Linked DNA regions of Homo sapiens. The protein of the gene in region 1 purifies or fractionates together with the protein of each later gene. This does not show direct contact. Each region holds a gene or a part of one and is shown in the gene's direction. Other genes may lie near its edges. The genes, in order: FRMD6, RGS3, SHMT1, FBN2, ADPRS, ABLIM2 and MRAP2.

Region 1 (3,500 bases):
TCAACACCTTTCTCTTAGCCTGCAGCTGCTGGATACTATATATTTGACATCTGAAAGCCCAGAGTACTGTCTGATGAAAATCTAAGTCACAGTGAATCACAATGAGTGTTTGAATGAAACGGTTTTCTCATAAGTATTCCAGCAGTGTTCATATCAGCCTCTTATGCAAGAACCAAAAATGTTTTAGAGAATTTCTCCCAGTACCCTGCCTTCTTTTGATTAACATTTAGAACCTCCCAGTCTGTGGCTGAAATTTTCTTAAGAGTTAGGTAGGATCCAGAACCTGAAGATGTGCCTACTATAGATGTATTTCATGGTACCAAGTATAAACTTGCAAGTATAAACAATTATGTGTACAAAATTATGAAAGTTTGTGTAGTGTTTTTCTCTTGGTGACTTTAAAGCAAAGATAACTTATTTTTCCTATTTGTTGTGATTTTTCTTCTTAGGTATTCAGCAGTACAACTAAATTGACTCTATAGCTTCTAGTATTAGCTGATTTAGCCTAGTAACATAACAGATGGTGAAAACAGAATGAATTTTCAATGCAAACCAACCAGTTTACATGGCCTATTTTAGCTTCTCATTCTTTCATCATTTTGGGGGTGGGGGTAGAACTTACATCTCTCCAACAAATGTTGCATTGCACACCCCTTGTATCCCAACAGGTTGTTTCCAAGAGGGGGAAGGACTACATCCTGAAGCACATTCCAAACATGCACAAAGATCAGTTTGCACTAACAGCTTCCGAAGCTCATCTTAAATATATCAAAGAGGCTGTCCGACTGGATGACGTCGCTGTTCATTACTACAGATTGTATAAGGTATGAAACGGCAACTAAGTCTTCAGCTTCTGAGAAAAAAACATCTTCTCAATAGGATTGAGAAGGAAAACCGAAGGATTTCATTTCCATTAAAACTTATTTCATTTTTTACATGCTTTTAAAAGAGTTTCATTGAACTGCTTTTTGTTATCGCACGTCAGTCTTGGAGGCCATGGTGCTTTTACTCTGGCCTGGAAGCGGGGTGGAGTATTTTTTAATGGTTCTAATAGTGAGATGACAATTGGCTATAAGATGTTAATCTGACTTTTTTAGTGATTATGGCATTGTTATTTCTCTCCTCCCCAAATCTGCTTTTCTGCTTTGGGGAATAGCATTTGCAACTTCTTTGATAAGTAATTTTTAATATTCCTCAAAGTGAAGCTATACCTGCGTTGTATCCGTCAGTTACAAGAACATTACCACAACAGGTAATGTTTATGGAGTCCTGTGTTTACTGGGCACACTTTATATGTGTTTTTTTTAATCCTCATAACTTTATATGAAAGGTACTTTAATCTTTATTTTACAGTCCAGGAAACTGAGGCTTAAAGAGATTAAATGAATCACCTAAGATCACAAAACTAAATGGCAAAGCCAGGATTTAGTCAAGGCCTTCTTGATAACATAGGCTGTGAGCCTAAGGCACTGTATTCCACACGTTCCTCACTCTCGGAAGTTACTCTCCTTTGTGTCCCGTGTATCTCTAGCCTCGTTTTTCCTTTCTGGGGCAGAGGTCACACACCCAAATAACAACTGGGGCCATGCTCTGCAGGGAATCACTCACAGTACTCTATATCATCTTGTCTTCTCTTCCCCTCCTCCTCCTAACCCCTTTCACTATTCCATAAGTGCCACTTTGTTGGCAAGAACTCCTGAATACCCACTTAAGTATTCAAAGGTGTATTCTCAAACCAAATGGATGAAGTGGTTAAGAGCACTGTAAGTTGAGCCTAACTGCCTAGGATTGAATCTCAGTTTGGCCTCTTACTATGTGACCTCAGGCAAGTTACTTACTTAACCGCTCTGTACTTCAGTTTCCCCATAGTTAAAGGGGACAGCAACATACCTGCTTTTTAGGATTGCTGAATACTAAAGGAATTGTTGGATGAAAAACTGCTTAAAACAGTGCCCAGCACATGTTAAGCATGATGTTAAGTTGGCTGCTGTTACCATTACCATTGATAGTATTATGCTTGTTATCTCTACTTTGCCTTTTGTGGTAGGATTAGCATAGCTAGACCATTGGAAACTGGGCTTTAGTTTGGATGTATTGCTCAGTAATCTTGTTAGCTGGTTCAGAAAACTTAAGGGACCAACTGATGTTTTTTCTATCTCTCTTCTATGCCCAAGAGATGCATTATTAATGCCCCATCTTCCTTGAAAGGCATAATTGAGTTCCATAAGATCTGTTTGGCTAAATTCCTAAAGGACTGAGTTGTAATTTTTTTTTAGCCTGAAGAGATTTTATTTGTGACACCTCAATTGACACAAGAAAATGCAAATAAATGACAGTTTTGATAATTAGTTTATATTTTAAAATGTATTAGAAGTATGAATGATATGTTGGAAAGAGTAAGAGTGTGGCTTTGGAATCAGATGTCAATTAGAAACCCTATGTCACTACTCGCTATAGCTGGGATCCTAGGCAACTATAATCCTGAGCTGTCTATTAAGTGGGGATGATACAATATGCTTCACAAGGTTGGGAGGCTTTGGTGAGATAATGAATCTGAAATAATGAGGTGGAATACCTGGCACATTAGTGAGTGCTCAATAACCATTAATTGCTTTTTGCCTTATTTGCTGGGGAAGCTTGCTATTTTAAAGAATCCTATTAAGAAATAAGAATCTTTTGTTGAAGTAGATATCCCCAATTTATCTTCTGTGTAAAACTTAATTTTCAAGTTTACTTAAAGTATGGCGCTTCTGAATTGCATAGAAAATGACTCTTATCTGCTAAAAAGATTTTTAGTAAAAATGTAACATAATGAAGTGGGGGAAAAGATATTGGCTGATTCACAGTTTTTATTCTTTGGAGAAATTCAGCGGCAGCCATTAAATCTGCTTCATTTAGGAGCTGCTCATAAACGGGAAATAAGGTAGACAAAGGACAAGGGAACATTCTGGAAAAAAAACCCGTTTTGTGCCCCTTTCCCACCAATATATACCGTATACTTGAAAACCAGCATTTTTATGAGCATAGCCTTATTTTGGAAAGCAATCTGTACATCCTTGAAAGCGAAATTGACCAAAACTCATATAATGATGGATTAGTTTCTCCTCTTAAAGCTTATGCTATATGTGTTTTTCTTGATGTAAAAATATACTAGTTGGAAAGAAACAGCCTAAATAGTAGAAATAGGCTGTGTCTTATATTTATAATGCCAGGTGAGGACACATGTTTTAAAAATATTTCATCCCATGTTCATGGGAAAGCTGGCACTAAGCTTAAAAAGATCTCTGCATACTCATTGTGTTTATTGGGAAATCTCATAATGAAAATATTTACTTAGTAATTTCATTTCTATTTTGAACTTTATACACTATATATACTTATTACAGATGAGCACTTAAAGGATGTGGCTGAATTTTAAAGTGAATTTTTAATTGTGGAGGTTTTTTTTTCCCCTTATGCTCATTGTAGTTTATTTTCTACAGTTTATGGTTTAGCTGGTA
Region 2 (3,500 bases), on another chromosome or scaffold:
AGCTGTACAATAGTGGGTAAGTCACCGGCCTTTGGGCTCAGTTTTCTCATCCATCAAATGGACATTAATGATTTCTACAATGAGAGCTCTTAACCCATGTTCTGGGGGTACTTACCCCTGAAGTTTTCTGCCAGTGTGCGCGTGTGCCCGCAGGTGCACACATTCCCAAGCATCTGTTCAGTTCCCGAGTATGGGTGAGGTCTTTCCCTTTCATTAGTTCTCAGCAGCTATGGCTTCTTGAAGACAGAACCTGGGCTCTAAATAAATAGTTCCAGCTCCGGCATTCCTGGTCCTTGACTGGGAGGGGCCCACCCCAGACTTGAGAACTGCCTCCCTGTGTGGTTGTGGCACCATGGACACTCCTGACTTTCTCGGGGCCCCAATCTTCTGGTGACATAGCTGCTATTCAGACTTTCATTAAGAGAAATGTTTTTCTCTTTGCACATGAAATCTACTGTCGAAACTCAGCAAAACCCCCTAGGATCCCGAGGGTTGTGTGTGAGGCAGGAGATGCTGTGTTTTTTGAGGAATCCCTGAGCTTCCTCCAAGCAGTTTAAAAATCCCTGGGTGGGTGATTCTTCAGGGAGGTTCCGTGTGTCTGCGACATCTGGTGAGTCCAGGTGTGGACAATATTTTAAAGTTCCGGTTTCATTCCAGTTTAATAGTTTCAAAAAGATACTTAAGCGTTCAGAGCACATTCTTGTTTGAATGACTCATTAGGATTTTTTAAACTTGAGTTCAGGTAGAAGACACCCTGGGCTGGGTTCAGTGACTGCCCTGGCTTGGTTCTGGTCCATAAGCAGAGACTGCCTGGTTCTCCTTTATCCCCAGAGGCAACTTTGACCCTGTTTCCTTTTCTGTAAAATGGGGACAGTGATGCTTCTTTTATAGGGTTGTCGGGAAGGCCACATAAGAGAGTGGGGTCAAGCTGGCCTGGCACCTGCCAAAGCAGGAGCTAGATAGATAGTGGTTATCTCTCCCTCTTCTCCTATAAATGACCAGCTGTGTTTTTGATGGAGCAGAAAGTTCAAGCAAGAAGACAGGGTGAGAATTGTTACCCAGCTAAGTCAAAGGGGCTTTGGGGGTTCCATCTGGCACCTCAGCTTTCAGACTGGGGGCCCGGGGTTCAGGCCACTGCCTGATTTCATGTCAGCTCATGCATGGTGTCTGGCATCTTGGAGCCTCCTCTTCTGAACTGTTCTTGTTTTCTTTTTGTTTCCCAGATGTTTGAGACGGAGGCAGATGAGAAGAGGGAGATGGCCTTGGAGGAAGGGAAGGGGCCTGGTGCCGAGGATTCCCCACCCAGCAAGGAGCCCTCTCCTGGCCAGGAGCTTCCTCCAGGACAAGACCTTCCACCCAACAAGGACTCCCCTTCTGGGCAGGAACCCGCTCCCAGCCAAGAACCACTGTCCAGCAAAGACTCAGCTACCTCTGAAGGATCCCCTCCAGGCCCAGATGCTCCGCCCAGCAAGGATGTGCCACCATGCCAGGAACCCCCTCCAGCCCAAGACCTCTCACCCTGCCAGGACCTACCTGCTGGTCAAGAACCCCTGCCTCACCAGGACCCTCTACTCACCAAAGACCTCCCTGCCATCCAGGAATCCCCCACCCGGGACCTTCCACCCTGTCAAGATCTGCCTCCTAGCCAGGTCTCCCTGCCAGCCAAGGCCCTTACTGAGGACACCATGAGCTCCGGGGACCTACTAGCAGCTACTGGGGACCCACCTGCGGCCCCCAGGCCAGCCTTCGTGATCCCTGAGGTCCGGCTGGATAGCACCTACAGCCAGAAGGCAGGGGCAGAGCAGGGCTGCTCGGGAGATGAGGAGGATGCAGAAGAGGCCGAGGAGGTGGAGGAGGGGGAGGAAGGGGAGGAGGACGAGGATGAGGACACCAGCGATGACAACTACGGAGAGCGCAGTGAGGCCAAGCGCAGCAGCATGATCGAGACGGGCCAGGGGGCTGAGGGTGGCCTCTCACTGCGTGTGCAGAACTCGCTGCGGCGCCGGACGCACAGCGAGGGCAGCCTGCTGCAGGAGCCCCGAGGGCCCTGCTTTGCCTCCGACACCACCTTGCACTGCTCAGACGGTGAGGGCGCCGCCTCCACCTGGGGCATGCCTTCGCCCAGCACCCTCAAGAAAGAGCTGGGCCGCAATGGTGGCTCCATGCACCACCTTTCCCTCTTCTTCACAGGACACAGGAAGGTGAGAAAGCTAAAGGGGGAGGGAGAAGGATACATGCAATGTGGGGAGGGCTGGCCCAGGGGCTGCAGGGAATGAGAAGTCACCATGTTCCACCCCCACTATCCTGGCAGCCTCCCAGCGAACTTTCCACCTGTTGGACAGAAGATAAAACTGAGGCCCAATGGGACCAAGAAGGCAGAGCATGGACTTAAACACATGACTTTAGGATTCCAGATGCTGTGTTCTTATAGCTCCACTGGTCCCCACAGAAAGCAGAGCAGGTGTAGCTTAGCCCAGGCCATTGTGTATTTGGATTTAAAAGATCTGAGATAGTAGCTGGAGAAATAGAGTTACAGCCTAGCCAGACTAGAAATCCATCAGCCAGTCACAATGACAACACACATTTATTCCGTGTCCACATTATCCTAAGCAGTTTACATTAACTCATTAACTCTCACAACAGCCCTTTGAAGTAGATAGTATTTTTGTGCCCATTTTACAGCAGAGGAAACCGAGGCAAAGAGAGGTTATCTAACTTGCTCCAGGTTACACAGTGTATCAGTGTCTGAACTAGAATTAGAATCTGGTTCCAGGGCCAGTGCTCTTAACCAACCACCACACCGTTTGCCTCTCGTGAATATTTATATGTAGATGAATAAGTATTTATGGATTTCCTGCTGTGTACCAGGCCCTGCGCTCTGCAACATGGCAGGAGCCACAGAAGTGTGTGAGGCTGGTCTCAACCTGAGAGAAATAAGTTAACTGTGTGAGCCTTGAAAGTGGCCTAACAGTGAACAGATTGCGCCATGATCTTGAAGCCTACCAGCTAGTTTGGGTCTGGGCTCTGTTTCTTACTATGTGGCTTTGGTTGAGTCACTCAACTCCTCTGAGCCATAGTTTTCTTCTCTGAAAAGTAGGGGTTAATAGCACTCACATCCCAGAATGGTTGAGGATGAATGGAAGAGGCTGGTGCCTGATAACACTAGCCGCTTGAGAGGCGGCCCTCAGGGAATGCTGGGCCCCACTCCTTCTCTTGAAATGCAACAGCCAGTGCAAGGTGTTGGTGTGAGGCTAGGTGAGTAGGGGTGCTCAGTGCCCATGGAGCACAACTGACTCAGAGATCTAGAACTTCAGGAGGACAGACCCCAGGGCCTAAAGCCATCAGGGAAAGCTTCTGGAGGAAGATACCTCTCAGCTTGGCCTTGAAGGATGAACAGGATTAGAATAAACAGAGAGGTAGAGGCAAGCATTCTTTGGCTAGAGCAGAGCATTCCTAAAGGGCAGATGCCTGGCACAGGTGCTGCTATTCCTCCCTCCAAC
Region 3 (3,500 bases), on another chromosome or scaffold:
TTCCACGCCTGCTCTCTGACAGAACTCTTTTATTCCCAGCATGTGATAACACTGAAGAGCTCAGCGCAGGTGTACTCAGGGGCACATTTCACAGTTCTTTGGGGGCTTTCTAGAAAAACAGGCCAGTTTGTAAGGAGTATTGAGCCACTGGACTGGTGTGTGGCCTCTGTCTAGAAAAGGTCAGTGTCATCTGAGGGATGCTGCAGAAGGTGGCCGTTGCCATGTGAGTCATCGAGTCTGTATTGGGAATGGTGTGGAAGTGGAGGCTGAATCTGGATTACTGAAAACCGTTTCTGCATTATAAATGTTGGATTTACACATGCAGTGGCTTTCAGTTGACTCTTTCACCCTCAGAATTACAGTGTTATATTCGTTTTTGTTTTTTACAGTCATCATCAGGCAAAGAAAATAAATTACAGAATTAGACATGGCTTTTGCAAATGTGTGCATTTTTGTCCCAAAGGAAACAGAAAGGTCACCCTTGGAGAAGGAATTGCCATTCTGTCCTGAGATGCCCCTGAAGCTCTATGTAGAAGACTGAGAATCAAGTTGAAGGCATTGTCTTTCTCCTATTGTGAATAACTAACTTTTGCATTGTGCCTTAAAGAATTCACCAGGTGTTTTCTTTATTTCTCTCTCTCCTTTCTTTTTCTTTTTCCTTCCTTTCTTTCTTCTTTCAGGCTAAGGTATTTTGTTAACACCAGGTGTTTTCTTTTTTTTTTTCTTCTTTTTTGAGACATGGTCTTTCTCTCACCCAGGCTGAAGTGCAGTGGTGTGATCAAGGTTCACTGCAGCCTTGGTCTCCTGGACCCAAGCCATCCTCCCACCTCAGCCTACTGAGTCGCTGGGACTACAGGCACACACCACCACACCCAGCTAATTTTTTGTAGAGACAGAGTTTCACCCAGGCTGTTGTTGCCCAGGCTGATCTCCATCTCCTGAGCTCAAGCAATCCACCTGCCTTGGCCTCCCAGAGTGCTTAGGATTAGAGCTGTGAGCCACTGCACCCGGTCCACACCAGGTGTTTTCAAAACTAATATTTCATTCGATTCTCACAGCAATGTATCGAGCAAGGGGTGATGTTTTCTACATTTTTAAGAAGGGGGACCGGGCGCGGTGGCTCACGCCTGTAATCCCAGCACTTTGGGAGGCCCAGGCGGGCGGATCACGAGGTCAGGAGATCGAGACCATCCTGGCTAACACGGTGAAACCCCGTCTCTACTAAAAATACAAAAAATTAGCCTGGCAAGGTGGCGGGCGCCTGTAGTCCCAGCTACGTGGGAGGCTGATGCAGGAGAATGGCGTGAACCCCAGGGGGCAGAGCTTGCAGTGAGCCGAGATCGCGCCACTGCACTCTAGCCTGGGCGATAGCGAGCCTCCGTCTCAAAAAAAAAAAAAAAGAAGGGGACTGAGTGTAGTGGCTCACCCCTGTAATCCCAGTGCTTTAAGAGGCCAGGGCAGAGGATCATTTGAGGCTAGGAATTTGAGACCAGCCTGGGCAATATAGTGAGACGCTGTCTCCAAAACAAAATTTAAAAATTAGCCGGACATGGTGGCATGCGCCTGTAGTCTCAGCTACTCAAGAAACTGAGGTGGAGTATCGCTTGAGCCCAGGAGATCAAAGGCTGCAGTGAGCTATGATTTTGCCAATGCACTCCAGCTGGGGTGACAGAATGAGACCCTGTTTCTAAATTTAAAAAAAACCCCGAAAAACCACAACTTAAATAGAAGTGTAATTACATCGTTTATTCATGTTAAAGGGCTTGTTGTTTTTTTTTTACACGGAGTATCGCTCTGTCACGAGGCTGGAGTGCAGTGGCACAATCTCGGCTCACTGCAGCCTCCACCTCCCAGGTTCAAGCGATTCTCTTGCCTCAGCCTCCCAAGTAGCTGGGACTATAGGCACGTGCCACCACACCCGACTAACTTATTTATTTATTTATTTTTTGTATTTTTAGTAGAGACGGGGTTTCACCGTGTTAGCCAGGCTGGTCTCGATCTCCTGACCTCATGATCCGCCTGCCTCTGTCTCCCAAAGTGTTGGGATTACAGGCGTGAGCCACTGTGCCCAGCCAATTAAAGGGCTCTTTTAAAAGGTAATTATTGGCTGGGCGTGGTGGCTCATGCCTGTAATTCCAGCACTTTAGGAGGCCGAGCTGGGTGGATCATGAGGTCAGGAGATCGAGACCATCCTGGCTAATACGGTGTAAACCCCATCTCTACTAAAAAAAAATACAAAAAAATTAGCCAGGTGTGGTGGCTGGCGCCTGTAGTCCCAGCTACTCGGGAGGCTAAGGCAGGAGAATGGTGTGAACCTGGGAGGTGGAGTTTGCAGTGAGCCGAGATCGCGCCACTGCACTCCAGCCTGGGTGACAGTGAGATTCCGTCTCAAAAAAATAATAAAAATAAAAATAAAAGGTAATTATTACATGTTTTCATTATATTTTGTTAATATAATTTAATATTAATCTACCTTTGGAACATTATTTAAAATCAAAGGCAATATTTGAAAACAATAGGCAAGGCGTGGTGGTTCACACCTGTAATCCCAGCACTTCGGGAGGCTGAGGCAGGTGGATCACCTGAGGTCAGGAGTTTGAGACCAGCCTGGCCAACATGTCGAAACCCTGTCTCTACTAAAAATACAAAAATTAGCTGGGTGTGGAGGTGCGTGCCTGTAATCCCAGCTACTCTGGAGGCTGAGGTAGGAGAATCGCTTGAACTTGGGAGGCGGAGGTTGCAGTGAGCCGAGATCGCACCACTGCACTCCAGCCTGGGAGACAGAGCAAGACTCCATCTCAGAAAAAAAAAAAAGAAAACAGTGTTGACCTAACGTTAATGACTTTGCTTGATACAAACCTAAAAACAAAGTTCTGGGTTTAAAACAAAATGTTATGTATGTGTGAATAAATGAATGACAAGGTCTCGTTGTCTTGCCCAGGCTGGAGTGCAGTGGTGCAATCTCGTCTCATTGCAGCCTCAAACTCTTGGGCTCAAGCAATCCTCCTGCCTCAGCCTCTCTGTAGCTAGGACCACAGGTGCGTGCCACCACACCAGGCTAATTTTTAATAGACATGAGGTCTTGCTGTGTTGCCCAGGCTGGTTTCAAACTCCTGGCCTCAAGCAGTCTTCCCACCTGAGCCTTCCATATTACTAGGATTACAGGTGTGAACAACCACATCTGGCCTATTTATTTTTTATTTATTTATTTATTTATTTTGAGACGGAGTCTCACTCTGTCGCCCAGGCTGGAGCGCAGTGGCACGATCTCGGCTCACTACAAGCTCCACCTCCCGGGTTCACGCCATTCTCCTGCCTCAGCCTCCCGAGTAGCTGGGACTACAGGCGCCCGCCACCACACCCGGCTAATTTTTTATATATTTTTTAGTAGAGACGGGGTTTCACCATGTTAGCCAGGATGGTCTCCATCTCCTGACCTCGTGATCCGCCCGCCTCGGCCTCCGAAAGTGCTGGGATTACAGGCGTGAGCCACCGTGCCC
Region 4 (3,500 bases), on another chromosome or scaffold:
CTGAGGCCTGAGGGAAAGGCCCATCCTCACATTCTACAAAAGGCTCAATTAAGATTGGTTCATAGCTTTTTTTTTTTTCATATCAATGTAGCTAAGTTGTATGATGATAGACAAATTAATTTATGGCTCGTTGCCATAATTCACTGTATTTTTCCAGGAGGGTTGATTAAATATAAATTGGGAAAATGGGGTAGTGTGAAAACCTAAAATATTAAGTAAGTTATTAGTGAAAATATTGATAAGAATTACATTTTACATAGGAAAAATTGGTAAGCTAAAATGTGACCATTAACTTAATATTGATCAGTAATTTTTAAATGTTGGACTATATGGTATGAAGAAGTTCAAAGGTTATGCAGCTGCCATTCTTGCTTCCATCCCCCCACTTGATCACATGGTATTTCAATTCTTTTAGGGGCCTGTCTCACCACTAAACTGGGGGCTTCTGGAGACAAGGTCCACATCTTACTCATCATTACAGCCATAAGTTCTAGCTTACAGTAGAATCTCAATATTTTAATTGTGAAATGAGTGAATGCTTCTAACTGAACATTAAACATGTAGCGTAATTATTTCCATTATAACTTTTCTTTTGGAACATGTTTGATAAATGTATCTGGAAGAAATAGGATGTAATGAGGAGAACAACCAGCAGCTGCACTGCTTTAAGAATCTCTGAATAGTTACTAATTTGAAAGAAGCTACAAAGACAAAGGCTTTCCCAACCTGCATTCACTTTAAAGTTGGCATTAAAACTTAGCCTAAGTGACATAGGACAAAAGCAGGCTTTAAAGAAATTCCAATTGAAGAATGCGAATTGCAATAAAAAAAAAAAAAAAAAAATATATATATATATATATATATATATATATATATATATGTGCCAAGGAAATTATTTTTTGCCACTTTAGAATAATTTCTTTTGATGCTTTATATTTTTTAATATGGGGATTTTTTTCTTTTGAAGAAAGATGTATCTGTGTTATATAAATGCATATTTGGGATATTTTCTTTATTTCTAAGTTTTGCATAAATGGGGATTTAGAGAATCACCTATGCTTTGTTCAGTCATCTAAGTAATATAAATTCATTGAAAAAATAGATTTATTAATTAATAGATATTCTTGCCTACTCTAGATATTGATGAGTGTTTTGCACATCCTGGTGTGTGTGGGCCTGGGACCTGCTATAACACCCTGGGAAATTACACCTGCATTTGCCCACCTGAGTACATGCAGGTCAATGGAGGCCACAACTGCATGGGTAGGTAAAGAACTCTGAGATTAATTAGAGCACAGTTGTTGACTTCACACATAAAGCACTTACGTCTCAGAATTATTGTTTGGAAGTTTGGAAGTTCAGTCTTCGTGAATTGAGATATTTCAGAGTCTTGCAAGCTGCTGGCTTAGTATCAAGTTTTTGACCTTTGGGTATACATTTAAATTTTTAAAAGCATGAGTCTAATGTAGAAAATTTCCTCAAATGTTATATATTCTTAAATTTTTCATCTCCATTCATATAGTGTGAACATTAATTTACAAATAAAAGAACATTTAAATTTTAATGCTTTATTTTTTTAATTAAATAAATGATTTTGAGAGAAAAACAAATATGTATTAACATTGTCTCCCAAGAAAATTATAAGTGAAAACCTTTAAGGATAAAGGAGAGATGTTAATCTAAAAATGATTTATGTTTAAGGAGTTATTTTAAGATAGCTTCAAATGACTAAAAAGGGTTTCCGAGTTGTGTTCATCAGGAAAGCTTGATGTCTACAGCTGTGTGGGCTTCATTATAAACTACTCGTGGATACAAATGGCTAGTTTCTTTGTTTTTCTTTATATAGACATGAGAAAAAGCTTTTGCTACCGAAGCTATAATGGAACCACTTGTGAGAATGAGTTGCCTTTCAATGTGACAAAAAGGATGTGCTGCTGCACATATAATGTGGGCAAAGCCTGGAACAAACCTTGTGAACCATGCCCAACTCCAGGAACAGGTAAGCACACGGCTCGTGCATCTGCTGACTGCCACATCAGTGATACACGCATATATCTAACAGTATAGTCAAAGTCACTGCATGCTAAAACTAGAGATGCTCAGTTCCAAAAATTCCCAAGAGCATCATATGGTTCTGTTTCCCAAGTGATCCTCTTTGGGATTCAAACACTAACTTCTGAGACATTATGTTGGATAGGCTTGTGAATCCTGAAAATAAGATCCATTGCTGAAGAGTTAGAGTTGATAGCATTAGTCCATTTAAACTCATTATCTTAAACTGTGCTTGTCAATTATTGATTTATTCATCAAACAAATATTTCTTGAGTAACTACTGTATGTCACTGTGCTAGACATGGAAAGTATAATATTTGGAGAAAAACTAAATTCAATAAGGATTTTTTTTTAGTTCAGCCGTGGAAAATATGCAAAAAGTGTTTTTTATGAGCGAATTTTACATAAAAGCAACCCATTGTCATAATGTGCCTTTTACATCTTCTTCCTCAGACATCAGTGAAATTTTTAGGCAAAAAATAGAGCTTGTCTTCACTTGGTCATGTTTTTTTCACAAGACAGTTTCTTTTGAAAGAAAAAATGAAAGATAATAGAGATAAGAGCAAAAATGCTTGTCTTAAAATTGCTGTCCATCAGGCTCTCTTTTATGACCTGGAGAATGGCAACTTTTAATAACTATAGATACTAAGAGTTGAACCAGTAGGCCAAATAAGAAACAGTGATTATGCATTTGTTACCAAATATTACTTAGGGTATATGTATTTAAATGTTCCATTTAATGTATTGATGAAATTAAGGAGAGAAATGATGAAAAGCAACACATAGGCCTTTTTCAGTGGCTCCAATTCACTGGTCAAATGGATTTTCTTAGCCTTATCTTGCCATTATTATGTTCCATAAAATTAAATAGAAACATTCCTACAATTCTCAACTTTAAAACTCCATAGTTACAAATTTAAGATCATTGATTTGGGGAATTAAAATGGCACTTTCTTTGTGAGAAGAAGCGAAAGGCTTGGAGTTGAGAGACGTGTCTGTATTTAAATCAAAACTCTTAAGATACTTATTGTGGAACCTCCTGCAGAGTATGTATCCTTTCTGAAACTAATTTCTCATGTATAAAATAGGAATAATAAATAATTACAGTGACTAATTCATATGGGTGCAATGACAATTAGGGAGATTATACATATAAATTATAATTTGAAGATTTCCAGACAATTAGAAACCATTAAGTTGAGCATCTGTGGTCTTTCTATCTGTTCTCAATACTCGGTATATATTGATGGATGAAATATACAATATCCCTGACCTGATAGCACTTGGAATATAGTATGCAGTTTAAGTTTTATATAATACTGTTTTCAGGAGTTTTACTCACTTGTATAGCAGTGAGCGTCAGAAGCATTTTTCATCTTGCAAATTAGAATTCTTTTAAATTTCCATTGATTTGGTTAATTATGTGTAAGAATACTTCTTATAGTCCC
Region 5 (3,987 bases), on another chromosome or scaffold:
ACTCCCAACCCCTCTGCCTCCAGGCACAGTACGGCCTCACCGACGAGGTTCACCAGCTAGAGGCAACCATCGCTGCCCTGAAGCAGAAGCTGGCGCAAGCACAGTAGGTCTCGGGAGTGGGCGGAAGGAGCAGTGAGACGCTGCCCACAAATGGGGCCTCTTGCTGGCTGCTGGCTCCCTGGGGCTGTCTTCCTGACTGAAGGCTATGCACGCAGCCCAGGCCTCCCAGCCTCATGGGGGCTGGGGGGTTGTCAATGTCCTTCCCTAGGGACGCACTGGACGCCCTGTGCAAGCACCTGGCCCGGCTGCAGGCTGACATTGCCTGCAAGGCCAACTCCATGCTGCTGGACACCAAGTGCATGGACACACGGCGCAAGCTGACCGTGCCTGCTGAGAGGTTCGTGCCTGAGGTGGACACCTTCACACGTACCACAAATAGCACCCTGAGTCCACTCAAAAGCTGCCAGCTGGAGCTGGCCTAGCCTTGGAGGACTGCAGGAGGAGGGCAGGGTTGGGTGGGCAATGGAAGGAGGGAGGAGAGAAATGAATGGAATAAATGCAGAGGATCTCAGGCCGGCTGTTCTCTGCCCCACTGTATGTAGCCAGCAGGGAGAGGGTTCTTGAACACCCTCCTGTCTATGGAGGAGCAAAGATGGGGAACACTATTCCTCCGAACTCCATGTACCAAATCCAGTTCTTTCCCTCCCCTCAGGGCACCCCTCTCTGGGCTGGGTCAGCACTCCTGGGCTGCAGCAGCGCGGCCTCTACCTGGCTGTGTCCCAGTTGGCCCCTGGTCCGCCCTCCTGATGCTTAAGGGAGGCCCACAGGGGGCAAGGGCCCGGTGGGAGGGCTTGGGGGTGGTCCCGGCCTCGGTGGGGAGGGCCGGCTGGGGGTGCGGAGTTAGGGTTGCTCGCCTGCGGAAGGCAGTGTGGGCTGCAGTGATCCAATGGTCTGGCTCAGTGCCCATCCCCCGGAGACCCCATAGTGGCCTTCCCACCCAGTTAGCCCAGTGGTGAGGAGCGGAAAACCGAGACTCAAAGCACAGGCTGGCGGGAAGTGCGCGGCGCCGCGACTCCGGGCCGCTGGGCGGCGCTGTGGGCCTGGCGGCGGAGTGGAAACTCTAGGCCCCAGGGAGCGCTGCGGACGGAAGTAGGGAAACTGTGAGGGCGGCACCGGAAGTGGCGAGCAGTCTGCGCGCGGATGGCCGCAGCGGCGATGGCGGCAGCGGCAGGTGGAGGGGCTGGCGCGGCCCGCTCCCTCTCGCGCTTCCGAGGCTGCCTGGCTGGCGCGCTGCTCGGGGACTGCGTGGGCTCCTTCTACGAGGCCCACGACACCGTCGACCTGACGTCAGTCCTGCGTCATGTCCAGAGTCTGGAGCCGGACCCCGGCACGCCCGGGAGTGAGCGGACAGGTGGGCGGGGCCGGGCGCAAGTCAGAGGCCGTGCGGGAGGGAGGCCGAAGGGGCGCGGAGCCTCCGGGGGCGACGGGTCGGGGGTGCGCGGGGATGAGGCTGCCGAGGGCACCGGGGCCAGAGCCGGATGACCCGCAGACAGCTTGAGCTCAGCGAGTGCCAGTGCGATCTCCGGCCTTATAGACGTCTCGCCCCGAACATCCCGTGCTCGGGGCGTGGCAGCACCGGGGCCTCAACCGTGCAGGGTGTGGATAAACCCATCGTAAGTTGAAAATACCTGAAGTGGAAAGTGCGCTTTCAGCTTAGACGACCGTTTTATCTGGACGCAGCCCCATCGGACGTCGAGGAGCCTATGAATGCGTATCAGCGTTATCAGAAAGCCGAAAAAAACTTAAGTTGAACCATCCTAAGTCGGGGACTGTCTGTCCACCCTTGCCGACTTGACCTCTTTTTCCCGGTTCTCTAGAGTCAGTATACCACCAGCCCGTTCTCCACCCCGCAAGGCGTGCTTTGGAAGCCTGACTCTAATCGCGTCCTCCCCTGCCTAAAACCCTGCTGTGATTTCCCATTACCCTTAGTACAGAGCCACATTCCTTAACGTGTCCGACGTGGTCCGGCCCTCCCACACGTCTGCAGTTTCGTTTTCCGCCAGCCTTGGCCTTGCTTTCTGCTCTTCGGTTCCTCACACCATGATTCCTCTAGGCCAGGCGTTTGCATGCGCTGTCTCGCCTGTAAAACTAACTTCCCTTCCCTTGTGGGCTCAGATCCCGGCTCAGGTAGCAGGTGTGAGGTCAAGCAGAGGAGGTGAATCTTCTTGGAGAGCAGGTAGCATAGTAAGAAGAAAGGGCCATGGTCAGAACCCTGGAGAACACCGGTAATTAAGAGGGAGGGAGGGAGGGAAGGGGATTAGGGAAGGAAACAGTTTGATAGGAGGAGAAGCAGGAGTGGCTATCAACGAAACCTAGGAAAAGAATTTCAAAATGAAGACACTGATCACTGGTGGTGTGCTCCAGAGAAGTGAAGTAGGAGGAGATCTGGATCCAGAAACTATCATTTTCAATCTGGGTATGGTGGCGCACACCTATAATCCCAGCTACTCCAGAGACTGAGGTGGAAGGATCATCGCTTAAGTCCAGGAGTTCGAGACTAGCCTGGGCAACATGGCAAGATCCTGTCTATAAAAAAGAAAAACAAAACAAAAACAAAAAGACTGGAGCTGCAAGGATGGCAGCCACAAGGGGATGGAAGTTTTCTTTCAGAAATCAGAAGATCAAACCATGATGTAGGCTCATAATAAATAAATACATAAAATAGAAAGCAGCAGGACTGACTTGGAATAAAGAATTGCTGAAAATCCCATTGCTGAGATCCTAAGGCTTCCCAGGCCCACGAAAGTGAATGGGAGTGAGAAACTGATTTGAGGTCATTTTAGATGTGGTAACTCTGAAACATGAGTAGAGGCTGGGTGCCGTAGCCACAACTGTAATCCCAGCGCTTTGGGAGAGTCCACTTGAGCCCAAGAGTTTGAGACCAGCCTGGCAACAGGATGAAACTCCATCTCTACAAAAAAAAAAAAAAAAAAAAAAAAAAGCCAGGCGCAGTGGTGTGCACCTGTAGTCCCAGCTACTCGGGAGGCTGGGGCAAGAGGCTCCTTGAGCCTGGGAGGTCGAGATGGAGTGAGCCATGGTCGTACCACTGCACTGCAGCTTAGGCAACAGAGTGAGACCCTGTACCAAAAAAATAATAATATAAACTAAAATAAAAGGTGAGCAGGGCCAGGCACAGTGGCTCAGGCCTATAATCCCAGCTCTTTGGGAGGCCAAGGCAGGAGGATTGCTTGAGCCCAGGAATTCAAGACCAGTCTGGACAACAGAGTGAGACCCTGTCTCTACAAAAAAATAAAAGTAGCTGGGTGTGATGATGCATGCCTATAGTCCCAGCTACTTGAGAGGCTGAGGCAGAAGGATAGCTTGAGCCCAGGAGTTCAAGACTGCAGTGAGCCATGATTGCACCAGTGCACTCCAGTCTGGGCAACAGAGCGAGACTCTGTCTCCAAAAAAAGCAAAAAACAACAACAAAAAAAACAAAGGTGAGCAGGAGGCTCTCATCCTCCCTCCTCTCCCCACAGAAGCCTTGTACTACACAGATGACACAGCCATGGCCAGGGCCCTGGTGCAGTCCCTGCTAGCCAAGGAGGCCTTTGACGAGGTGGACATGGCTCACAGGTGAGGGGGATGGTCCTGGGCTGAGGCAAACCAGGTGGGAAAGTTATTGCACCCCTTGACCAGAGGAATGACATTTGTGCATGTCCACGCCCCCAACCCTCCACAGAAGCCTGTGTCAGGCTGGCACAGCTTCCCAAGCTAAAACAGCAGCACTGCTGGTGCAGGCTCCTTAGGCCCCCGAGGCTTTCTCTTTTTCCAAACTAGCCTCGATTTCTTCTCTCCCAACCCTTAGAGGCATCTTGTAAATCTGAATTCTGTCTCCCCTTCTGTTCCCTAGATTTGCTCAGGAGTACAAGAAAGACCCTGACAGGGGCTATGGTGCTGGAGTAGTCACTGTCTTCAAGAAGCTCC
Region 6 (3,500 bases), on another chromosome or scaffold:
GAGTGCAGTGGCGCGATCTCGGATCACTGCAAGCTCCGCCTCCCAGGTTCATGCCATCCTCCTGCCTCAGCCTCCCGAGTAGCCAGGACTACAGGCGCCCGCCACCACGCCCGGATAATTTTTTGTATTTTTAGTAGAGACGGGGTTTCACCATGTTAGCCAGGATGGTCTCGATCTCCTGACCTCGTGATCTGCCTGCCTCAGCCTCCCAAAGTGTTGGGATTACGGGTGTGAGCCACCGTGCCCAGTCAGAGGTCTGGGTTTTAACCACCTTGTGGTGACCTTGGCATACTCAGGACAGCTAGAATCTGACCAGCAACCTCCCAGATAACGGCTGGGGCTGGACATGCTCACTTGCCTGGTGCTCCCGGGAGTGGACTCACAGCACTGGAGTGGGGCACCAGAACCACTGCCACATGTTTCTCCTTCAAGGAACAGCTCACGCCGTCACGTCTTTAAGAAGAATAGAGAAATACAGAAATGCCAGAGCCATGAGTGCTGTGAGCCCAGTCACCATCCAGCTACTGTCTTGGGGCAGGTGGCGCTGACATCAGAATACTATAATGCTCCAAAGTGAGGCCCCCAAGTCTCTGCTTCTCCCCAGTTGGGATGTATTTGCTTGGTCTACGCTATGGTGCAAGATCGGACAAAGCATTTTCATCCTCAGCCCAGGTTTCCTTCTGGATTTTCATGAGCCAGAGCATGGAGTGCAGAGCAAGGGCACCCTGGCCCAGGGCTGAGGCCCACCTGTCTGGAGCTTCCCTTTGATGCTGGGAGTCCTTGGCTGTTTCTCATAAACGCCCCGGAACGCCCAGGAGGAGCGAGTGCAGGCATCTTATACCATGCCCTCATCCCTCCCAGACCATCTAGATGGGATTTCGTTCTGAGTTTTCATTTTTACCTTGAGACAGAATTCAGAATCAGCATCTCTGGCCTTGGGCCTCTTAGGAGCAGCCATTAGAGCAGCAGCCAGGGCCTCGACACTGAGCCAGGCAGGACTCAGGTCTCACATCGCACTGGCTCACGGGATGCTCATCTGTGCTGCCGTGTACCCCTCTGAAGTAGGTTCTGTGTGCTAGATGAGGACAAGGAGGCCCAGAGAGGTTAAGGAACTTGCCCAGGGACACACAGCACACTACGCGGGTAGAGCTGGGATTCGAATCCCGGCAGCTCCGGCATCTGGAATCTAAGCTGCTCGGTTGACGTCTCACCATATCAGAAGAGCTAACATCTCTTTGGAGAAATGGAGACAAGTAAACCCTGGAATGTAGGCGTTCCAGCCACTCTGGTGCTTCCAGCCAGTTTGTTCCCAGAGCTCTGTTGGGGGTTTTGTAGGCAAATGTTGAGGGTCTTGCTTTGGCCTCGATATCCCACTGGATGCCCTCAAAGGAATGATGTAACAGTTAACTTTAAAGGTGCCCATATTCACAATGTGCAGAAACGACGTCCTTTGCAAGCAATTAACATTGTGATGAAAACTTTTAGATGTCAGGTTTAAAATGTATGAGGGCTACATGGTTTCTCAAAGCCCTTCCTTGGTGGCTGTAAGCTGCATTGACCCAGCAGGCAGGACCCAGGACTGACCAGGCCAGAGGGGCTGGGGCTGCAGGGGGTTCCTCTGTGACTCTAGCAGGGAGGGCCTGGGCCAGCTGGGTCAGGGGAGGCTGTGGGCTGCTCCCTCTGAAACCATGCATGGCCTGGGCACTGGAGGGGAAGCTTGTGGGAGGAATGCGATCGGGTCTCAGGACATGGACTGGGGGCCTCTGAGCTGGTGGTGACCAGCAAGTTGTCCTGAGGGCGAGTGTTCCCTTCCCTACCTGGCAGAGATCCCTCAGCCCTCCATGGAGCTCCAGGGCTTCAGCTTCCTGGGCCGGGTGTGTGTTGGGAAAAGAGACAAAGTGCTTCCCTTTCAGGAGTCCACAGGCTCTCTCCTCCTGCAGGTCTGGCCTTGTTCACACTGTGGGGAGACAGGCGTCGAGGGCCATGAGGGCATGGAGACCCAGAGGAGTGGGGGAGGGGGTGGGAAGCCTAGAGGTGGGCTGGAGGCACCGACCACAAGGACCTGGTCTGTCCTCCTGGGAACCTTCGGCCCCCAGCACAGAGTCTAGCACACAGTAGGTGATCAGGCATTAGCCCCTTCCTGATCTGTATGCCCAGTGCTGGAAACAGCCCACTGGAGGACAGCAGGGGCTCAGGGACCATCCCTGGCGGGGTCACAGAGGCTGGGGGCACTCTAGCGAGGGTGGGAGGCTGGGCAGCCCCTCAAGAGAGCCTGGCTCTTGTCCCGGTCAGTGCCCTTTCCCAAGCTTCTGTAAGGAAAGTCCACTCACCACCAGGCCAGGGGCCAGAGCTGGAGTCTGTCCCAGGAGCCCGGCCCGCCGAGAGTTGAGCAAGCCACCCCAAGTGTGTGCCGAGGCCTCAGTGCCTGTGTCAGGTGGTGGTGTGTGTGTGGAGGGGGGTGCACCTCGGGCCTGGGGGACGTGGAGATGGTCCCCTCTGCCGCTAACGCCACCTCGCCCGTCCTCCCCCAGCATGTGGCTGCGACCTGGCCGAGGGCGGCTTCTTCGTGCGGCAGGGCGAGTACATCTGCACGCTGGACTACCAGAGGCTCTACGGCACCCGCTGCTTCAGCTGCGACCAGTTCATTGAGGGTGAGGTGGTGTCGGCGCTGGGCAAGACCTACCACCCCGACTGCTTCGTGTGTGCCGTCTGCCGGTGAGTAAGTGGGCACCTGGCCTCTGCTTCCCCTGCCTCTCTGGGCCTTTTCTCCTTCCCTCCCTCCCTTCCCTTCTTCCTCCTGCTCCCTCCCGTGACCCGCCCTCTGCATCCTGCAGCGAGGCTGTTCCAGGCCCCACAGTCTGCACCCTTCTGTCTTGGTGCATACAGAGGCCTCCTCACAGGGAGCTCCGTGAGGGCAGGGGTGGGCTGCCCCGCTTTGGGTCTGGTGCATGGCACAGAGCAAGCATGCAGCAAGTGCTGGCTGCGGAGACTGGGTCCTCATCCCGGCAACAGGACTGCACCGGCCCCGCTCCGCCTGCACCTCCTGGGGCTGAGCAGGAGCCTTCCTACGTGGTCCCTGCCTCCCCCTTCCCTCCCCAGCCCCTGACTCGTTCCTCCCAGAGGAAATGTTCTGTTTCTAGAAAACAAAGAAGAGAAACATGAAAAACAGTTTGTTTTCTGTTCTGTACTCCCTGTCTCACCACACCGTGTTTGCAGGGGACGTTTTCAATGTTGTTTCCAAAGCAGTTCCCTGTGGTTACAGCGTGTGCCGGAGACAGAAATGGAACCTTCGTCAGAGGATGCTAAGGACAGGAGGTGACGATGACAAGGAGTATGTCTAGGGAGAGTCGCTCTGTGTCATCGTAGCGTGACCTGAGTCAGACCTCTCTCTCCCAGGGATTATCCGAGTGTTTGATTTTTGTGTACGTGGCTTAGAGATGAGGGTTGACATCTCACAGTTGGTTTGAAAGATCGCCTCTGGTTAATCCATTATTTTAAAA
Region 7 (3,500 bases), on another chromosome or scaffold:
GTGTCTTGCACACAGTAGGTGCTCAAACACAGTTATTGAACACAGGCTGCATTGACTTATCACCTTCGGTATCCGTGCTGCGCAGTGCAACCATCTTCTCCCAAAGAAGTCAGGATTTTTTGGTCTAAAATAGTCACAGTTAACAAAGATACTTGGGAAATCCTGAAAATATCATAAATTTCAGGAGTAAGCAGTTGGACAAGTTGTGGACTTCTGTTGAGTATCTTCTGCAAGATCCACTATGCAACTTTTGCTGCCTGTTTTTCTTTATTCACTCCATTTTATTAAACTTAGTTTCCTCCAAACCCACTGGAAGCAAGAAAAGCAAACAAACAAAACCTTAGGTTGCTCATCTCCATTGTTGCATAGTAGGTGTTGAATGGATACCTACTGAGCTAGTTCATTTCTGATACTAATTTGATTACTTCTCCTGAACATTCTTTCTTCTTACAGAACTCTCTGTCCTCTACCTCCCAAATCCCACAAAACATCTCGCCTCCACACATAGGCTGATTGCTTGGGAATGGTACAGGAGGCCCTTGGTGATTCTAATTGATGAAAGACTAAAAAATTCCCTTATAGGGGAACATAAATCAATGTCAATCTGAGATTGAGTAATACATCAAATTAGTATCAGCAATGAACTAGTTTCAGCAGGCTCTTTACATACTCTTGCAGGTATAGGTGCTGAGGCTGAAGCTGTAAGCTCAGAGATTTTGACATACTCTTTCCCTCCTTTCCTTCTTTCCTTCATCAGTTACTGAACATTTGTTATGTGCCAGGCATTGGGTTAAGTTCAAAAAAATATACAGTGTCTGATTTCAAATACATTATTCCACTCTAGTGGCAAGAGAAAAGGAAGTAGTGGCCACATGATATGAGGTGTGAGCAGCTGGTAAGAACCTCTCCTGGCCTAGGAGGTAAGACCTCCTCAAGGGGTTTGCTGCCAAACTCCTGAATGCGATCAAGAGTAATTAAGGTAACTGTGCAGCTCTGGATGAATTAACAGGTTCTGCGCTTGACTTTCTCCATTTGTGCAGGTCGGAGATGTCCGCCCAGAGGTTAATTTCTAACAGAACCTCCCAGCAATCGGCATCTAATTCTGATTACACCTGGGAATATGAATATTATGAGATTGGACCAGTTTCCTTTGAAGGACTGAAGGCTCATAAATGTAAGTTTTATACAATTCCTCATTGAAAGCATAATTGTATTTCTCTTAACCTGTGAAATCCCCAAGGATTACTTCTCCTGAGCATTCTTTCTTCTTTACAGAACTCTCTGTCCTCTACCTCCCAAATTCTACAAAACATCTCGCCTCCACACATAGGCTGATTGCTCAGGAATGGTACAGGAGGGCCTTGGTGATTCTAATTGATGAAAGACTAAAAAATTCCCATAGTAGGAGAACATGAATCAATGTCAAGCTGAGATTGAGAATTTTTAAAAAGCATTTGCTTTTTTAGCTCCTCCAAACTGTGAATGTTTGAACTATCAAAAATATGTATAAAAATAGGATCTGGAACTGTTATTTGAAGAACCTTCTTTTGTAACACAGCAGCATCTTTTCATCCCAGTTGGTTTCCTGGAGCTGTGGAGAGCAGTGTATCCATGTGTGCTCATAATGATGGACCAGAATAGCCTGCGATCATTTCTAACACTGTGTTCTAGGCATGAATTGTGTTTCATGCTATTGGAGTAATTAAGGGTCCAGCACAGAGCAAGGAAATGTAATTCTGTGAGACGTTGCTACTCAACTCCAGTCATAACTGAATGCTGACTGGCCAGCATGGAACATCCTTGCTTCATTAGGTAGAGTTAACAGTTAACATGGTAGGCAGGAACTGCTGCCCAGTCTCAGATCCTGTCTTGGTAACCCCGTAAATATCCCTGAAATGTTCACTTTTGTCAGAGTGAATTATCCACAGCACTGTAAAATTTTTATGCTCTTAACTGGTCCAGGTTAGTGGGACACATTAGGAAATATAAGAGGGCTTAGAATCAGAGAAACAAATGTAGCAAAGAAAGTGTTTTTGTTCCTTTAATTATTTCCTGGCTGCTTCTATCCTGACCTGTCTTGGCATTCATGATCTCTTGCACCAACTTGGTGCTCTTTTGCAAGAAGGGCTTTCTATTTTTGTTCCTTTAGCAAAAATCATTAATTAAACCATATGTCCTTTACCCCTTAAGTGAGTAGTAATAATTAAATACTTTCATTCATTCCTTTATTGACATCTGCTCAGTATTTCTTTGTGGAAAAAAAGCACATGGCATTTATCAAGGTATGCTGTCATTGATTATCTGAGAGAAGGCTGTTGGGTGTGAAATCACCTTCTTTAATTTACTTAAATTCTTTAATATGTTGTTTTTCTAGGATAACCTTTATGTAAGGACAATTGCTTGTTCTGAATTATAGTGGATATCAAAATGACTGGGAAAATTGCCACATATTTTCTTGAAATGTGGGCTTTTACTGCTTGGTGACATCAACTTTACTTTTGTGTCAGCTTGCTCCTATCTCTTTTCCTTAGTTTAAGAAGCACAGAAGACAGGCCTGCTGCTGTAATTTTGGTTGGTACATTTCCAGAGACAATTGAATAAAATATTTTTTGAGGATATTACATTCTAGAAATAATTATAGCTGGAAAACTTCATGAGAAACATAGGCAGAGGTGTGACTCATTCCTTACTTACTTACTTTACCTACTATACCATTAATAACAATTGCTTTTGTTAATTTTAATATTCACGTCAAGATAAAACAAAAATGCCTGAGCACTTACTGTTCTGATATAAGAGAGCTGATAAGTAGCAGCCCTTAGCTTCAGGAACCTGAAAATATATGCGACACATTGAGAACAAAAAATAAACAAACACAAAACCCCAGATATACAGGAAAGTGAAAAGATCAAGTCAACTGTTGAAATGTGTGCTCTGGTACAGTCTCTTTCATTTAAAAATGCTGTGACTCTGACCTTCAAGTATGACTCCTTGTTTTGCTGGGCAAAATTCAAAGCTAATTAGATGCAGATTCAAAAGAACAGAAGCAGGACATTTCAAGGGGAAGCACTCATTGCGGACAGGAATGACCATAACAGTTATCTTTATTTGCCTTACCTGTAATGGATCACACTTGGCAACAATAGCTCCATCTTTAGACTGAGTTCCTCTGCTGAAATTAAGATTCCTACCTTCAAAGGGTGTTTCATCTGAGAAGCAACCTCAGATGGTGCTTGAGAATTCTTTTGCCATCAGTTTTGAATCCAATATTAAACCTTATCATGTATCAGAAGTGGACATGTATCTGATACAGATTTGGCACCAACAAAGTGGAAACCTATTTATTTATTCATTCATTCAATATATATTTATTGAGCACCTGTTATGTGCAGTACTATTTTAAGCACTGGAGAGACAACAGTGAACTGAAAAGACAGAAATATTTCCTTGTATAGAGCTTGCATTCTAGTGGGAGAGACAGACAATAAATAGTTAAATAG

The links.
Region 2: the proteins of FRMD6 (region 1) and RGS3 purify together in Homo sapiens (co-immunoprecipitation; one large-scale study listed by IntAct). This does not show direct contact.
Region 3: the proteins of FRMD6 (region 1) and SHMT1 purify together in Homo sapiens (co-immunoprecipitation; one large-scale study listed by IntAct). This does not show direct contact.
Region 4: the proteins of FRMD6 (region 1) and FBN2 purify together in Homo sapiens (co-immunoprecipitation; one large-scale study listed by IntAct). This does not show direct contact.
Region 5: the proteins of FRMD6 (region 1) and ADPRS purify together in Homo sapiens (co-immunoprecipitation; one large-scale study listed by IntAct). This does not show direct contact.
Region 6: the proteins of FRMD6 (region 1) and ABLIM2 purify together in Homo sapiens (co-immunoprecipitation; one large-scale study listed by IntAct). This does not show direct contact.
Region 7: the proteins of FRMD6 (region 1) and MRAP2 purify together in Homo sapiens (co-immunoprecipitation; one large-scale study listed by IntAct). This does not show direct contact.

The regions. Positions count from the first base shown.
Region 1 is NC_000014.9:51,707,410-51,710,909, forward strand, and holds part of FRMD6 (FERM domain-containing protein 6), read left to right. Parts: intron 1-668; coding exon 669-824; intron 825-3,500.
Region 2 is NC_000009.12:113,582,227-113,585,726, forward strand, and holds part of RGS3 (regulator of G-protein signaling 3), read left to right. Parts: exon of another isoform or gene 1-16; intron 17-1,223; coding exon 1,224-2,201; intron 2,202-3,500. UniProt on the Homo sapiens protein: Down-regulates signaling from heterotrimeric G-proteins by increasing the GTPase activity of the alpha subunits, thereby driving them into their inactive GDP-bound form.
Region 3 is NC_000017.11:18,350,051-18,353,550, reverse strand, and holds part of SHMT1 (serine hydroxymethyltransferase, cytosolic), read left to right. Parts: intron 1-3,500. UniProt on the Homo sapiens protein: Interconversion of serine and glycine.
Region 4 is NC_000005.10:128,307,746-128,311,245, reverse strand, and holds part of FBN2 (fibrillin-2 precursor), read left to right. Parts: intron 1-1,137; coding exon 1,138-1,263; intron 1,264-1,846; coding exon 1,847-1,999; intron 2,000-3,500.
Region 5 is NC_000001.11:36,087,705-36,091,691, forward strand, and holds the start of ADPRS (ADP-ribosylhydrolase ARH3), read left to right. Parts: upstream 1-1,187; 5' UTR 1,188-1,200; coding exon 1,201-1,411; intron 1,412-3,539; coding exon 3,540-3,636; intron 3,637-3,913; coding exon 3,914-3,987. Other genes in the region: TEKT2 (tektin-2), read left to right, coding at 24-103, 269-482. UniProt on the Homo sapiens protein: ADP-ribosylhydrolase that preferentially hydrolyzes the scissile alpha-O-linkage attached to the anomeric C1'' position of ADP-ribose and acts on different substrates, such as proteins ADP-ribosylated on serine and threonine, free poly(ADP-ribose) and O-acetyl-ADP-D-ribose.
Region 6 is NC_000004.12:8,096,314-8,099,813, reverse strand, and holds part of ABLIM2 (actin-binding LIM protein 2), read left to right. Parts: intron 1-2,531; coding exon 2,532-2,715; intron 2,716-3,500. UniProt on the Homo sapiens protein: May act as scaffold protein. May stimulate ABRA activity and ABRA-dependent SRF transcriptional activity.
Region 7 is NC_000006.12:84,054,272-84,057,771, forward strand, and holds part of MRAP2 (melanocortin-2 receptor accessory protein 2), read left to right. Parts: intron 1-1,040; 5' UTR 1,041-1,047; coding exon 1,048-1,174; intron 1,175-3,500. UniProt on the Homo sapiens protein: Modulator of melanocortin receptor 4 (MC4R), a receptor involved in energy homeostasis. Plays a central role in the control of energy homeostasis and body weight regulation by increasing ligand-sensitivity of MC4R and MC4R-mediated generation of cAMP.